2 separate regions of the Homo sapiens genome follow, and region 2 is linked to region 1. The links come from fine-mapping of genetic effects on gene expression. A gene starts in region 1. The other region holds a variant in brackets. All regions are shown on one strand. Distances are between the middles of the regions.

Region 1 (2,914 bases):
TCCGTGTTCAGCTGTGTAAGGTCCACCACACAGACATGTGGAAAAGTTATTCTGCTAACATAATTACATGACCCTCCCTGGATGCAAAACAAAACAAAAAAAACACCACTGTCCCTCTAGAATCAGAGATACCTCAGGGTGCAGTGGCAGCATGTGACTTTGATCTGACCCTCTATGGTCTCCCTCATGCCTCAGTTTACCTGTGCATAGTAAGAACCCTGGAGGGCCATGAAGAGGATCCTTCCTTCCTACGTATCCAGAGTTAAACTCACTACTCTGTCCTCACCCCCCAAGCTGGATCCAGAAGTTTAAGCCCCTACCCGCCCATCTCTGCTTTGGATCTCGGGTGCACAGAATTAATCATCAGTCTTGGTTCAGGGCACAGGGTTCACCTCTTCATGCTTGCCTAATGTTAATTTTTTTTTGCCCTGGTGTCAATACCTGATCCTCTTTGTCTTGTCAAAGACATGGGAATAAATAGTAGCTATTCACTCTCCTTGGAAGCATGCAGCCTGGGAAAACCTCCCTTCCCACTGTGCCCCAGAAAACCGAGTCCCATAGGATCAGGGTAGGGAGTGCACACACAGGTGGCAACCAAAGGACAGACCCCTTCTCATTGTGGGCTTTATAGGCAGAGAAACCCCAAACCCACATCTCTACAGGACAGGATCTGGGCCAGCCCTGTCCTTCCCTGCATTCCCAAGTTAGGAGTGCTGAGTGAAGCAAAGGAAACTGGCTGGAGCTGAGCCAGGTTGCCAGTCTTGGACGCGGCTCCATCTTTTATTCAGAGAATGACCTCATCCTTGGTCCTGGTTCTTTAAAAGAAAGTGGAGGGGGTCTCTTTCCTGCAGCCTGGCTTGCACTTTTATCGCCCCACTCTCCTACATAGTATCAAAGAATCAGAATCAGACTTCACCTACAGAAGATTCCCAGGCTTTAGGACATAGAGCCAATACCACATTTGTCCCCCTTTTGTCCTATATTATCAATTTAGCCTCTGACCCAGTTAGCTCCTCCTCTCCACTGCATTTAACTTCTAATTACCCTTGCCCCACCCTCGGCCCACCCTAATTACCCTTATACCTCCCCTCCCCCAGCCCCAGCTTCATTTACCTCCGACTCATCTGGTCTTATTTTTAGCTCCGGCATCTCTCCTTTTCCTTTCTTAATATGGCGATGAGCTCTTAGGCCAGTGTGGGGACCGGGGCTGAGGTGCCCTGGACACTGGAGGAGGGGGAGGGAAGGAGCCCCTGGGAGCCTGGGGTAGAAGTGTAGGAGGTGGGAGGATTCCGGCCCGCATGGAGCTGTCCTGGCCTCAGAAGGTTATCCGTCTCTCCTGCCAACCATGGAGACATATTTAGACAGGACCAGGTGGGGACTGAGGGGTGCCAATTTCAGGGGGCAGCTCCGGTTCCCTCCCCGCCCCCTGCTCCTATTCCTCCACCTGACCCTTTTTCCCTTGGCTCTGTCGGCAGTTTCTCCAGGACCCAGCAGTGCCCTCTGTCCACTGCTCTGGGCCATTCCCCAATCCCCCCTCCCACTTGAGCCCCTAACTCAGAATCTGGGACCCAGGGGCCCCTCCCTACCCCAGCTAACCTCTTCTGGACCAGGAGAGCCAACCCAGATCCCACTACCTCCATGAGTGCTACAGACAGGATGGGGCCCAGAGCTGTGCCGGGTCTGCGGCTGGCACTGCTGTTGCTGCTGGTGCTAGGGACACCCAAGTCAGGGGTACAGGGGCAGGAAGGGCTGGACTTCCCTGAGTACGATGGTGTGGACCGTGTGATCAATGTCAATGCAAAGAACTACAAGAATGTGTTCAAGAAGTATGAGGTGCTGGCACTCCTCTACCATGAACCCCCCGAGGATGACAAGGCCTCACAAAGACAATTTGAGATGGAGGAGCTGATCCTGGAGGTGAGTTGGGGGCACTGCAGGCCTGCAGAGCATGTCTAGCCCCTCTCCGGAATCCCCTATCCTACACCCATGTAGCTCTTTGAGGATGGGATCTGGGGGTGAGGGGCAGTGTGGTAGGAACCCTGTCCTGACCAACAGGATGCAAGTGGCATGTGGCTTTAGTCAAATGAGAAACAGAGTCTCAGGAACCCAAAAGTACTATCAGCGTCAGGAAACCTTTAGCAGGGGTGCTGCAGGAAGAGCTCCCCTCCCTGCTATAGGAGGCTGGTAGTATTTGACTTAGGTTTGGCTAGGACACTGAGGGTGAAAAAGGGAGGTACTTGGAGGGCCAGGGGAGAACAGCAGTGTATATTGCACTCCCCTACCCCACCCATCTGCTTAGCCAGAACACGTCCTCTCCACATACTTCAGGGGCTGCACCCCAAAGAGATCCAAACTGAGTGTAAATGTAAATGTTATGATACTTGCATGCCATGTTTAAATATCTCCTAGAGATCATGCCTCCCATTGGACTCCCAGTCCCCTCTCTCTTCCTTCCCCCTCCCTAATTCCCCATTTGTCTCCATTGGATAAGCTGGATGCCCTCACTGGAAAATTCTTATGGTTGCAGGAGGTGTCAGAATGTCTTCCCCAATCTTCTTTTTGTGGGAAAAGTCTCCTCACCTCCAAAATGACTTCAGGCCCAAAGGAGAAAGAAGTTATCATAAGAAAAGAAAAAAAACCTATGTTTGGGAATGTGTTCATACACACACACCTTTAGGAAATGGGATGTGAGTTTTCTTGTCCAAGCTCCTGTGGCCCCTTCTCTGGCCTCAGCTTGTCCAGAGCTTGGAGCATTTCAGGGTGAGACACCAGAACCACAGGCTCTCATTTTGTGCACCCCTGCTGGGTGCTAGAACCTGCCATCTGATTAATGAGCCGAGTATTTTTATCCTGAGTGCTCAGTATCCCTGGCCATCCACCTGCCAACCGCCTCCCTTCCCCACCCCTCTGAGAA
Region 2 (2,914 bases), 46 kb before region 1:
AAAATGGCATTTTTTTAGTAAATTAAGAGCATAAACAATATTGCTAGAGGTGGCATGTTTAGTCTACCAAAAACAATACTTTTCAGGCACTTTAGAAATATCCTTTTAGAAGCAGCGAGTGCATGGGCTAATTATCATCAATCTTTATGTATTTGTTAAAGAAACATCTACAGGATCTTTATTGGTGACCTTTTGTAAGACATTAGTTTGAGGTACTACCTATGTACTTGAAAATAATAAAGTGGCATTTCTTTATGAAAAAAAAAGAAATCTCTTCCATAATTCAGATTTCTACACTTTATACTTGCCTCCCTCCTAAATCGTGATATTGAAATATGTGCTGTGGCAGAACTCGGCTTGTAGGGAAAGCAACAAAGAGATAGCAAGTGTCAGGGATGGGAGGGAAATGGTCTGGGAGCAGATGATGTCCGTGGAGAAAGCAAGAGGGGAAGAAGTTAGGTTGCAAAATAACCTACAAGAAACTATAGCAGGAGCCTCCTTCCTCATGCTGATCCCACCCTAAGAGCCACAAGAGTTTGTCCAGGACAGGGAGGGGCCTGTGAGTCTATTAAGAACAAGATCCTCAGGGGCACTTCTGCTTTTTCTGTTCCAGACCAAAATCAGGCCATTCTCTATCTGATGGGATGGGGGAAGGAGATAGTGGGTTGAGGAGCCCAAGAGTCAACACCAATTCACAATCTGTACTTCATGCAGAGCTTTGTCCTGGGTGCTCTCTTTAAGGGGTGGGGGTAAAGTGGATGCAATCCTTGAAATTCACCTGAGTAGTAGACATCAGAAACCATCATGGACAGAATGTAATGAGCAGTAGGGGGGACGCTTGTGTGCTGGAGATGGAGGGGTGGGTGGGTGGGTGTGCATTGCTCCAGGGGGGCCCTGGGAATGGGAGAGAGAAAGACACCAACTCTTACAACCTATGCCAGGATTTCAGAATAACGGTCAGAAGTCAATTCTTGCCCAAGCCATATTGCAGCCCCTTTATTATGACTCTTAACAGTGTCATTAATGACAGTTATAGTTAGTAGTGATTATAAGAGCCTTAATCACAGCTCATTTTGTGCCATAACTATGCCAAAATTTTATTTGTATAGTCTCCGTTCATCCCACCACAGGGCCTTTATTCTTGATGGTCCCTCTGCCAGGAACACTTTTCCCTAGTTATTCACATGCCTGGCTTTGTCACTTCATTCAGATCACTCCTTAAACATC[A/G]GTAAGATCCTCACAGAGGACCTCAAATAAAATGACTTCCTGGAACCTCTTTCTCTGTTCTCTTCGTTTTTGTTCATAAATACTTATTACCTTAAATTTAGATAGAAAGACAGCTAGATGTAATATTTAGAAAGATATACATGTATTTTGTTGCTGTTTATGCTTTTGTTTGTCTGACTCCTCCAGTATAAGTTCCATGAAGACAGAGACTCTATTTCTTTTGTTCAACACCTTTATCCTTAGCACCTAAAACATCTGACACACGTTAGACAATTAATAAATATGTGTTGGATGACTGAAAGGATCCTCACAGTAATTCAGTAAGATGGAGACTATTATTATCTCCAATTTACAGATGAGAAAACTGGTGCTCAGAAAGTTAAATTATTATTCAAAGTTTCAAAGGTAGTAAGCATCTGAAGCAGGATTCAAACCTAGGCCAGTCTGACTCCAGGGCCTGCCCTCTTAACCATGCCATGCTCTGCAACTGCAAGAACAGAAAGCCTATGTGCATGGACAGAGCCTGACTAGCCCAATGGCTCAGTGAACTGGGGAGGCTGCCAAGGGAGCCAGGAATTTGTGGACAATTAACATTTGAGCAGCAGGGGCAAGGCAGATCCGTGAGAAAGGGAGAAGATATGATCTCAAAGATGCGGTAGGGGGTTAAGAAAAAGATCCAGGCCAGGCACAGTGGCTAACGCCTGTAATCCCAGCACTTTGAGAAGCCAAGGTGGGCAGATCACTTGAGGTCAGGAGTTCGAGACCATCCTGGCCAACATGGTGAAACCCTGTCTTCCACTAAAAATACAAAAATTAGCCGGGTATACACCTGTAATCCCAGCTACTCAGGAGGCTGAAGTAGAAGAATGGCTTGAACCCAGGAGGCAGAGGCTGCAGTGAGCCGAGATTGTGCCACTATACTCCAGCCTGGGTGACAGAGCAAGACTTCATCTCAGAAAAAAAAAAAAAAAAGAAAGAAAGAAAAGAAAAGAAAGAAAGAAAAAGATCCAAAGAGATTTGATGGTCTGCTAGAGGATTTTAGCAAAAAGAAGAATCTTACTATTGAATGTAATCTGAGAAGCTAAGGCCAACTTTTGACCCAGGCAGAAAGTCTTTCCATGGCATTTTCTTTTTATCTACAGAATAGGAAATGTGATCATGCATCAGAGATAATCAGAGATAGTCACTAAATATTCATAATGCTAAGAACGCAGCAAAAAATAGGAAGAAAGTGGTTAGATCAATATCAAAGGAAGACATTTAATACAAAGTGAGTCTTTCAAAAATATCCTTGGCTCCAGTGAATTCAATGAAGGATTTTTTGCAAATTCCTCAAAGAATTTCCTTATATTATTTAAAATGTGCTGGAATATAAAAAATTATTTTGTGTTTTGTGTTGCCCAGCCTATTTTATGAGATAAGTACTATTTTGTTAAAATTTTATATTTAATATAGATAATAAATTGACTACCCCAAATGGTGGAATGCAAGGATAGCATATTACAAGGAAAATGTTACAAACAACTAACATTAACTAGACAAAGGATGAAATAATCATTTCAAAAAAGGTTGAGGAGGCTATCAGTAAAATTCAGTATCTATTACTGATAAAAATGTTGGAGGAAAAAGTGTATCAGAAAATATAATCATGGGCCAGTCGCGGTGGCTCACGCCTGTAATCCTAGCA

Direction of the effects. Positions count from the first base shown, and alleles are read on the strand shown. Sizes are in standard deviations (SD) of each study's normalised expression.
For the expression in tibial nerve of the gene that starts at base 1,462 in region 1, allele G in region 2 goes with a lower level than allele A (moderate effect, 0.44 SD a copy in GTEx).

What was found.
Region 2: its variant is fine-mapped to the expression of CASQ1 in tibial nerve (GTEx, PIP above 0.99).

What each region holds. Positions count from the first base shown.
Region 1 is chr1:160,189,114-160,192,027 of GRCh38, forward strand. CASQ1 (calsequestrin 1) reads left to right here and starts at 1,462. Exons shown (of 11, transcript NM_001231.5): 1 at 1,462-1,917. The coding sequence starts at 1,639.
Region 2 is chr1:160,143,326-160,146,239 of GRCh38, forward strand. ATP1A2 (ATPase Na+/K+ transporting subunit alpha 2) reads left to right here. Exons shown (of 23, transcript NM_000702.4): 23 at 1-266. Among named protein-coding and RNA genes, the nearest start is that of ATP1A4, 6.8 kb to the right of the region's middle. The variant A/G (reference allele first, on the strand shown) is at 1,228.